Homo sapiens: one gene and its partner. The protein of the gene in region 2 interacts with the protein of the main gene of each other region in a pairwise test. Each region holds a gene or a part of one and is shown on either strand. Other genes may lie near its edges.

Evidence for each region.
Region 1: the proteins of ZNF250 (region 2) and SPECC1L interact in binary tests that used the Homo sapiens proteins (3 or more experiments, as listed by UniProt).

The regions. Positions count from the first base shown.
Region 1 is NC_000022.11:24,416,035-24,419,266, forward strand, and holds the end of SPECC1L (cytospin-A), read left to right. Parts: 3' UTR 1-1,704; downstream 1,705-3,232. UniProt on the Homo sapiens protein: Involved in cytokinesis and spindle organization. May play a role in actin cytoskeleton organization and microtubule stabilization and hence required for proper cell adhesion and migration.
Region 2 is NC_000008.11:144,890,409-144,895,965, forward strand, and holds part of ZNF250 (zinc finger protein 250), read right to left. Parts: intron 4,825-5,557; exon of another isoform or gene 4,735-4,824; intron 1-4,734. UniProt on the Homo sapiens protein: May be involved in transcriptional regulation.

The sequences.
Region 1 (3,232 bases), on a different chromosome or scaffold from region 2:
CACTGCCCCACAGACTGGATGCAATGAGGGGCTCACAGGAGGCCCAGCCAGCCCGATTGTGGGCTGAGGGGTCTGCATTCAAGCACGATGTTCTAGAATAGGAGTTTAACGTGTCTACGTAACCTAGAATGTGGTTATTAGGAAAGGGGCTGTGCATGTGGGTGCAGCTGGCGGCACACCTGGTCACCAGATGGCCAGAAGCTGCCCATCAGCCCTGCCCAGATGTCAGCCTGGGAGCTCAGGCTGCTGCCGCTGGCTGGATGCCCTTTGGTGAAATGCCTGTTTTCAGCTAAGAAAGGAGAGGCCAGGCAAGCAAAGTCATGCCACAAAGCATATCAGAGACCCCCGCAGACTCCTGGCCCCGTCCCGCCCCCTGTCTGAGTTGTGTTTTTGTTGCTGTTCCTCTGTTGATGGCCAGCTCTGCTGTTGGCATGAGCCACTGATGTTCATGTGAGAATTACTGTTTTTAAGTGTCTCTCCACTTAGGTGTCCTCAGTTCCCACTTTTGCTCTCATTTGCCTTCACAGAGGCCACTCCACCTGTCCGGATCCAGCTGTCTGGTCATGGTTTGGTTTATTTATTTTGTCCTTCAGGGGCTGTTTTGCCCTAAGAATGAGGGGGCTTCCCCTGGTCTGCAGTTCCCAACTTTATCCCTTGCTGGCCATGCGAGCCCAGCCCTGGTGCCTCATGGGATGGGGGGGTAGGGGTCCCCAGGATCTTCTGGAGGAAGGTGGCCATGGATGGATGGGCTGTATCTGTGTTTTCCCTCTGGGAGTCTCATGGGTCCAGCATCAGGCCTGAGGTCAGCAACAGGGAAAGAGGGTGGGCACGGGGAGGGCTTGGCCCCGCCTATCTAGAGGCTTGCCTCGGGCCCCTCCTTGGGGAAGGTTTGCGTGCAGAGCTGCAAGGGAGAGGGTTCCAGAAGCATTGCCTTTTGCCTCGTCTAATAGGATCCTTAGGACACTGTGGGCTTTAGGAATGACTATAGATGCTCACACGTGTTTAAAGTGACATTTGGAGATGCTCTCAGTCCTGTGGCATCTGGCACGAAGTCTCCAAGAAGCCACTTTGCCTCTTCTCCCTTCAAGCACAAGCTTTACTGCAAAAGGGCCAGTCGCGTTTCTATTTCTCTCGATCCCAGGCTTCTGCGGACCGACGATACGTTTAAATGTTGTTCTAGTAAATATTCTTGAATGTATTAAAATGGCTGAAACAACAAGCTTGGGCTTTTCTAGCTTGCCCTCCACTCCCTGCCGTCCCTCTGACGTCGCATAAACCAGAACCCAGCTCCCTCCTGGGACTGGCTGTGGAGAGAAGGGCACCTCTGAGCCAGCCTGTGGCCCTACCCCAAGGCGCACTTCCTCATGTGGGCAGATCCTGACCAGGAGTCCAGGGTGGCCTCCCCTGGGCCACAGCACATCACCGTGTGGCCTGGGGCTGTGGGACAGTGAGCCCTGTAACCACTAGGGTTCTGTGACAGATGCCAAGACCCCAGAGACCGTGGCAGAGCTACCCCCAGGAGAGCGGAAGCCCCTACACAGCCCAGACACATGCCTTCCCTGGGGGCTGGGGAGTGTGTCTCGAGGGGTTTTGTTTGTTTTGAGGCATGTATCATCTTGGAAATAATTGTCAGGATGTATAAAATAGAGAAAAAGAAAAAAGGTATCCTACCCAGAGGCAACCAGATAAACTTTTTTGCCTGTGCATTGTTTTTTGTTGGTTTTTTCGAGACGGGGTCGATCACGGCTCACCACAGCCTTAACCTCCAGGGCTCCAGCAATCCTCCCACCTCAGCCTCCTGAGTAGCTGGGACCACAGGTGTGTGCCACCATCTCCAGCAGTTTGTTTATTTATTTTTTCTTTTTTTTTTTTTGGTAGAAATGGGCTTTTCGCCATGTTGCCCAAGCTGGTCTTGCACTTCTGGGCTGAAGCAATCCTCTCGCCTTGGCCTCCCAGAGCCTTGGGATTACAGGTGTGAGTCACTACAGTGATTGTGAATGCACTGAGCTGGCCTGGAGAACACTTACCACCTTGTCCACGTCACATGCAAAAGGCCCATGGTGGTGGTGCTTCCTGCACACGAGGGCATGTAGTGAATGCCCTTCCCAGGTGGAGACTCCTCAGGGTTGGGAGCCCAGCAACTGCCTTGGCCCTGAGTAAGCCAGGAGTTGCACTGTGACCTGCAAGTGCTTGGGAGCTGCACCCCTGGGTGCCAACAGCTGCAGGTACCCTGGGGTGGGCAGTGGGCAACAGCTGTAGAGCTGGGAGCTGGGCGTGAAAGGACTGGGGCAGGACTGGGCTTGGACTCAGCTCCTCCCTGCTCAGCAGCCCCTTCGTTGTGTCCTCTGCTGTGCGGAAGGGGTTCTGCCCTAGTGGTCAGCAAGCATCCATGGAGCCTGCCGGGCGGGCCCTGTGTGCAGCGGCCTCCACACGTCAGCAGGGGACTGCCGTCCCTGCCAGCGCACCTGGGCCTTGTCCTGGGCAGCACAGACCCCTTAGCCACCACTCCCAGGTGGGGCGGTCACTCCCAGATCCTCCATCCGTCCCGCCTGCAGTGCAGCTGCCTTGGATGCTGATTAGGGTGGCCCTGAGGGGATCCTTCTGTCCCAAGTTACGGGCCTGCGGGGCCCGTCCACAGTGCTGTGCCCCTCAATTTGGAGCTGGCTCTGCTGCTTCCCAGGGCAGCACCTATGGGGAGGGCATCGTTTATACCTTGACTCAAAGTTCCAGGATCTCAGGGACAGCTTAATAGGTGGAAGGGGGAAGCTGTGAGATTCCAGGGAGAGTGGAGAGATTCCAGGGAGAGTGGAGAGATTCCAGAAGGATCCCTTACACCCCTCCAGCACCCTCAAGGGCCTGCGGTCCTGTGCCCAGACGCCACGCCCTGCCCCAGCAGCCCTGCCTGGCCAGCTCTATGGCCCCAGCCCCACGGGGCCGGCACTTCGTGCAACCTCGGGGTAGCCTGGGTTCTATTTTAGGTTGTCCCTTAGGTGAGGGACCGGGGCAGACAGAACCAGTCTCAACATGCTCGCAGCCACTTCCCCGTACATCAGGTGAGTGAGGACAGACTCCTGGGTTGCTGAGATTCGGGGATCTGGATTCTGGCAGGAGCTTTGACCCCAACAGGTCTGGACCTTACTGGGCATCTACAGGAGCTGGGCCGGGCACAAGAGAGGACTCCATCTCTCCTGCCTGACAGGAGAGGACTCCACCTGACCAGCCCTCTCAGGCT
Region 2 (5,557 bases):
GAAGAGGAGGGGGCAAGTGAGGGGCATGGCCTTGAGACCGTAACTTCCTAGGGGGCCCTCAGGGGATCCCTGGGCCTCATTCAGAGTCACTGAGGGGCACACTGAGGTCAGGTGCAAGGAGCTGCTACTGTTGCAGCCTTGGTCTGCCTTGCCTCCCCCATGAACTCTGACCCTATGGTTCAGGAGCCTGTCCAGGCCCTGAACACACAGTTCCTGGGCCTGCCCAGCTAGTACTGGGCTCTCTGAACACCAGGTGCAAGGCACTTGCTGCACCCTGGTCCCGGCCCATGGTCCTGCCATACACAAGGATACCAGCTCACCAAGGCTCTGTGTGTTCTATACCTGAGGCCCTCACACAAGTACCAGACTGTCCGCAAGTCATGTGGGGGATACAGGCATCAGGCCAAGCTGCTTCCCCAAACACCCTCCCAATTAAGAAAGCCTTGGCCACCAGGGTGACAATAAGACTCCCCTCACCCCACCCTTAGGCAGCCCTAGTGCCCCAATGTGGCACCAGGTTCAACCAGGTATTTGAAGGGGAGGCATGGAAGTGGTCAGTTCTGGACAAACTGAGTCAACAGTGGCCTAGGGATCTGGTCTGAGCAGCTGAAGGAAGACTTGTCATCAAGTGAGAAGGGGATGCTTGGGGTAGTGGGGCTGGTGCTGGAACGTAACAGGACAAGGTAAGCAAAGGTATCTGACACACACCCAAACAGCTGGGAAAAAGGGGGAGCGGGGCAAGAGCTTTCCTGACACATTTGGTCCTGTACAGGATAGGGTTCGCAGTCTTCTGGAGCATCAAAAAGAAGATACTGTGACAGGGATACAGAAACCAACCAGGTGACCAAAGGTGGTAGATCACTCCAGAAAAACGTGGTATAACAAAGCAACCAATCCCCTCACATGCTTGGCTCAGATGGGCACCACAACAAACAGGGTGCTTTAAGAGTGACAAAATAGGTGTCAGGGCTGGGGGCAGAAGTCAAGGGACATCATAATCTCAGTGTCTATAAAACATCAGATATAGGTGGGCGCGGTGGCTCATACCTGTAATCTCAGCACTTTGGGAGGGTGAGGCAGGCACATCACCGGAGGTCAGGAGTTTGAGACCAGCCTGGCCAACATGGTGAAACCCCGTCTCTACTAAAAATACAAAAATCAGGCCGGGTGCAGTGGCTTATGCCTGTAATCCCAGCACTTTGGGAGGCCGAGGCAGGCGGATCACCCGAGGTTGGGAGTTCGAGACCAGCCATGACCAACATGGGGAAACCCCGTCTCTACTAAAAACACAAAATTAGCCGGGTGTGGTGGTGCACGCCTGTAGTCCCAGCTACTCAGGAGGCTGAGGCAAGAGAATTGCTTGAACTCAGGAGGTGGAGGATGCGATGAGCCGAGATCATGCCATTGCACTCCAGCCTGGGCAACCAAGAGCAAAACTCCATCTCAAAACAAAAACAAAAACAAAAATCAGCTGGGTGTGGTGGCGGGTGCCTGTAATCCCAACTACTCAGGAGGCTAAGGCAGGAGAATCACTTGAACCCAGGATGTGGAGGTTGCAGTGAGCTGAGATCATCTCAGCTGAGACTCTGTCTCAAAACAAAACAAAAAAAACACACATCAGATACATGTATATATTTGCACAGACAACTTTCAGGAAGATACACAATAAACTAACTGCCTGCCTCTGAAGAACAGGACAGGGAAACACAGTTGGAGAGAGACTGACTTTCAACCCTCCCCCGTGCTGCTGTTCTCCAAAAATGCCCATTCCCTCCAAATGTGTGTGTGAGCACACTTCTGTGTTAGCGCAATGCAACTCTAATTAGAATTCCAACAGAAGTCTTTTAAAGGAATGACTACAACTACTTGAGAATTCATAAGAAGAATGGATGCTAGAGAATAGCCAAGAATTTAACTGGAAAGAACAGAGGGTGGGGACTGCCTTGCCAGGAATCAGAGCCAAGGGTGGGTAGGAAGCCGCTGCAATTAAACCAACAAGTTGTTGACAGAGGAACAGATGAAGCCAGACAGGTATGTGGGAAATTGGAAGATAACAAAAATGTTACATTTTAGTTCAGCAGGAAATCAGTGGTTCCTTTAGTAACTTGTGTGTACCCAGATGGGATACATCAATAACCAATTTTTTTGTTTGTTTTTTTTTTTGAGACAGAGTTTCACTCTTGTTGCCCAGGCTGGAATGCAACGGCGAGATCTCGGCTCACCGCAACCTCCACCTCCTGGGTTCAAGTGATTCTCCTGTCTCAGCCTCCCAAGTAGCTGGGATTACAGGCATGCGCCACCATGCCCAGCTAATTTTTTTTGTATTTTTAGTAGGGACAGGGTTTCTCCATGTTGGTCAGGCTGGTCTTGAACTCCCGACCTCAGGTGATCCGCCCGCCTTGGCCTCCCAAAGTGCTGGGATTACAGGCGTGAGCCACCGTGTCCAGCCACCAATTTTTTTTTTTTTTTGAGACGAAGTCTTGCTCTGTCACCCAGGCTGGGATGCAATGGGGTGATCTTGGCTCACCGCAACCCCTGCCTCCCAGGTTCAAGCAATTCTCCTGCCTCAGCCTCCCGAGTAGCTGGGATTACAAGCACCCACCAGCACGCTCGGCTAATTTTTTAAATATTTTTAGTAGAGATGGGTTTTCACCATCTTGGTCAGGCTGGTCTCGAACTCCCGACCTCAGGTGATCCACCCGCCTTGGCCTCCCAAAGTGCTGGGATTACAGGCATGAGCCACCACGCCCAGCCCAACAATAACCAATTTTGGATTAAGATGAAGACCAAGTGTGAGCATTAACAGTGGCCTCATGTGCTCCTGGTCCCCCTGTCTGACATCTGCCTACCCTCAAGGGCAGAAGTGCCTTCTCTCCTGCCACACCCTGACCCTTTCCATGGGTCACCCACCAGCGCACAGATCTGCCATTTCTTTATTTTGAAACAGAATCTCGCTCTGTCACCCAGGCTGGAGTGCAGTGGCATGATCTAGGCTCACTGCAACCTCCGTCTCCCAGGCTCAAGCGATCCTCCTACCTTAGCCTCCTGAGTAGCTGGGACTACAGACACCTGCCTCCATGCCCGGCTAATTTTTGTACTTTTTGTAGGTACGGGGTTTCACCATGTTGCCCAGGCTGGTCTCGAACCCCTGAGCTCAAGTGATATGCCCCTCTTGGCCTCCTAGAGTGCTGGAATTACAGGCTTGAGTCACTGCGCCTAGCCCTGCATGCGAATTTGACCTTGGGTGAATGCACAGCTCTGGTCCCCTGGAAACCTGGCAGAGGTGGATGGTCATTCTCTCTACGGACCAATCACACCTGGGCTGTGACTCAATGATGAACAACCACAGGAAGTACATTCAGGGCCTCCCTAGCAGGTCTTGCAGCCAGTTCTCTTGACACAGGAGGTGCTGGCTTGTATGACCACGAGGCTTTCGACTAGGCTAACTCCTCCTCCTACCTGCATCTTGTGTTTATGCACCTCAGTACTCCCTGGATGGCTGCTGGATGATGCTGGCCAGCTTTTCCGAGAAGCTGCTGCTAGGCATGGTTGTCCTGTGAGTCTGAAAAGTCAGTTGAGCCCAGTAGCTCTTTTGGTACACTTGAGCTCGTGATCCCCCTTCCCTCTGACTCAACCTTTCAATATGGGTGTCTCATAGCATCTCAGACATTTAACATCCCAAACCAAGCACCCCCTCTACCATCATTTCTACCCCCAGCTTGGTCTGTGAGCCTGTGCATCAGCCTCCTTCCTTCTTCACTCCCACACTTCTATTCACCTTCCAAGCACATCCAGAACCTGACCATGTTGCCCATCTCGCCCTCCCTGCCCCATGACAACCACCCCTAGATGTTCGGCAGCTCCCATCTGGGCAGACAGACTCCCAGCACCGTCTGTCTGCCCAGCCCCTCCATCTACCTTCCTGTGAGAACACAGTGACTGTCCTCTGCTCCAAGGTCCTCCCAGGACCCCACTGGCTCCTATGGGCATGCCCCAAACTTTGTGATTTTCCTCAGAGCCCTGCAGCCCTTTATCCCTTGGCCTGTGCTCCCCATCCAACTCTTAGAGACCTCTGCCCCACCCACCGCAGCAGCCCTGGCCTCACCCAGCTCTCATCCTATCCCTTTCTCCTGCACCAGCAGACCAAGAAGCAGGCCCAACAGAGTAATCAGTGGTCGACCTTTTTTTTTTTTTTTTAATTACTTCTAGGCTAATGATTACAAATTGCCAGGCAATGTACTTTTTTAAACTTTTAATTAATTTCTTAGAGACGGGGTCTCACTTTGTAGTCCAGGCTGGAGTACAGTGGCTCAATCACAGCTCAATGCAGCCTCCAACTCCTGGGCTCAGGTGATCCTCCCACTTCAGCATCCCAAGTAGCTAGGAATACAGGTTGCACCACCATGCCTGGATAATTTCTTAATTTTTTTTTTTTGGTAGAGACGAGGTCTTGCTGTGTTGCCCAGACTGGTCTTGAACTCCTAGGCTCAAGGGATCCTCCCTCCTTGGCCTCCGAAAGTGTCAAGATTACAGGCCTGAGAACACCACACCCGGCCTGTTTGTTGAATAAATGAATGAAGAGGAATGAGCTCACACTTTATGCCATCTGTAATAGCCAAGTACGGAGTCAACACTTTAAACTGGCAGGCATGGGAAAGTGGAGTTTCTCATACTCTTAAGAAGGCGACCTAGCAGTATTTAGGCAAATCAGACTGGCCCTTGGATAGTGGGTACCTGATAAGAATGGATGTGGGTGAGGGTGCAGATTCAAGGATGTTGCTGAGGCAAATGCTACGTTGGTCCTTCCACATACAAGTTACACACCTGCTAAAGAGAAAGATGTATGTTGTGTCAGGTCACCAGATGGGTGAGTGAAAATGCAGCATGGGGCCAGCATGCAGGGGAAAATCTCATTTTGTAAACTATGACCCCGAGCCCATGAAGGGTATGTGTGTCACAAGGACCTGGGACTGGTTCACCTGCCTCACTTGGGCCAGCTGCATTGAGGCCCCACCTATAAATCCAGATGACACACTCCTCTGAAGGCCTGGAGATCATGTGGTTGGTGAGAGGAGAGCGCTAAGAACAGGCTTGGCTCAGAGGAGGATGCTGCTGGATAAGGTGTTATTATCTATTTGATTAACACACAGAGGAAATACTCCAAAGGACAATACCAGGCTGTCAACAAGTGTGTGGCAAGGAGAAGTGAAAGGGAAAGACTGCCACCTGGGGTGAGTCTTAGAAAAGCATCACACAAAATGCAGTATCAGGTCTCTATTGAAAGATGACCATCACATATTGCTAATTAAAAAAAAAATCGGCCAGGCGCAGTGGCTCATACCTGTAATCCCAGCACTTTGGGAGGCCGAGGCGGGCGGATCAAAAGGTCAGGAGTTCGAGACCAGCCTGGCCAACATAGTGAAACCCCGTCTCTACTAAAAATACAAAAAGTTAGTCAGGCATGGTGGCAGGCACCTGTAATCCCAGCTACTCAGGAGGCTGAGGCAAGAAAATAGCTTGAACCTGGGAGACAGAGGTTGCAGTGAGCCAAGATTGT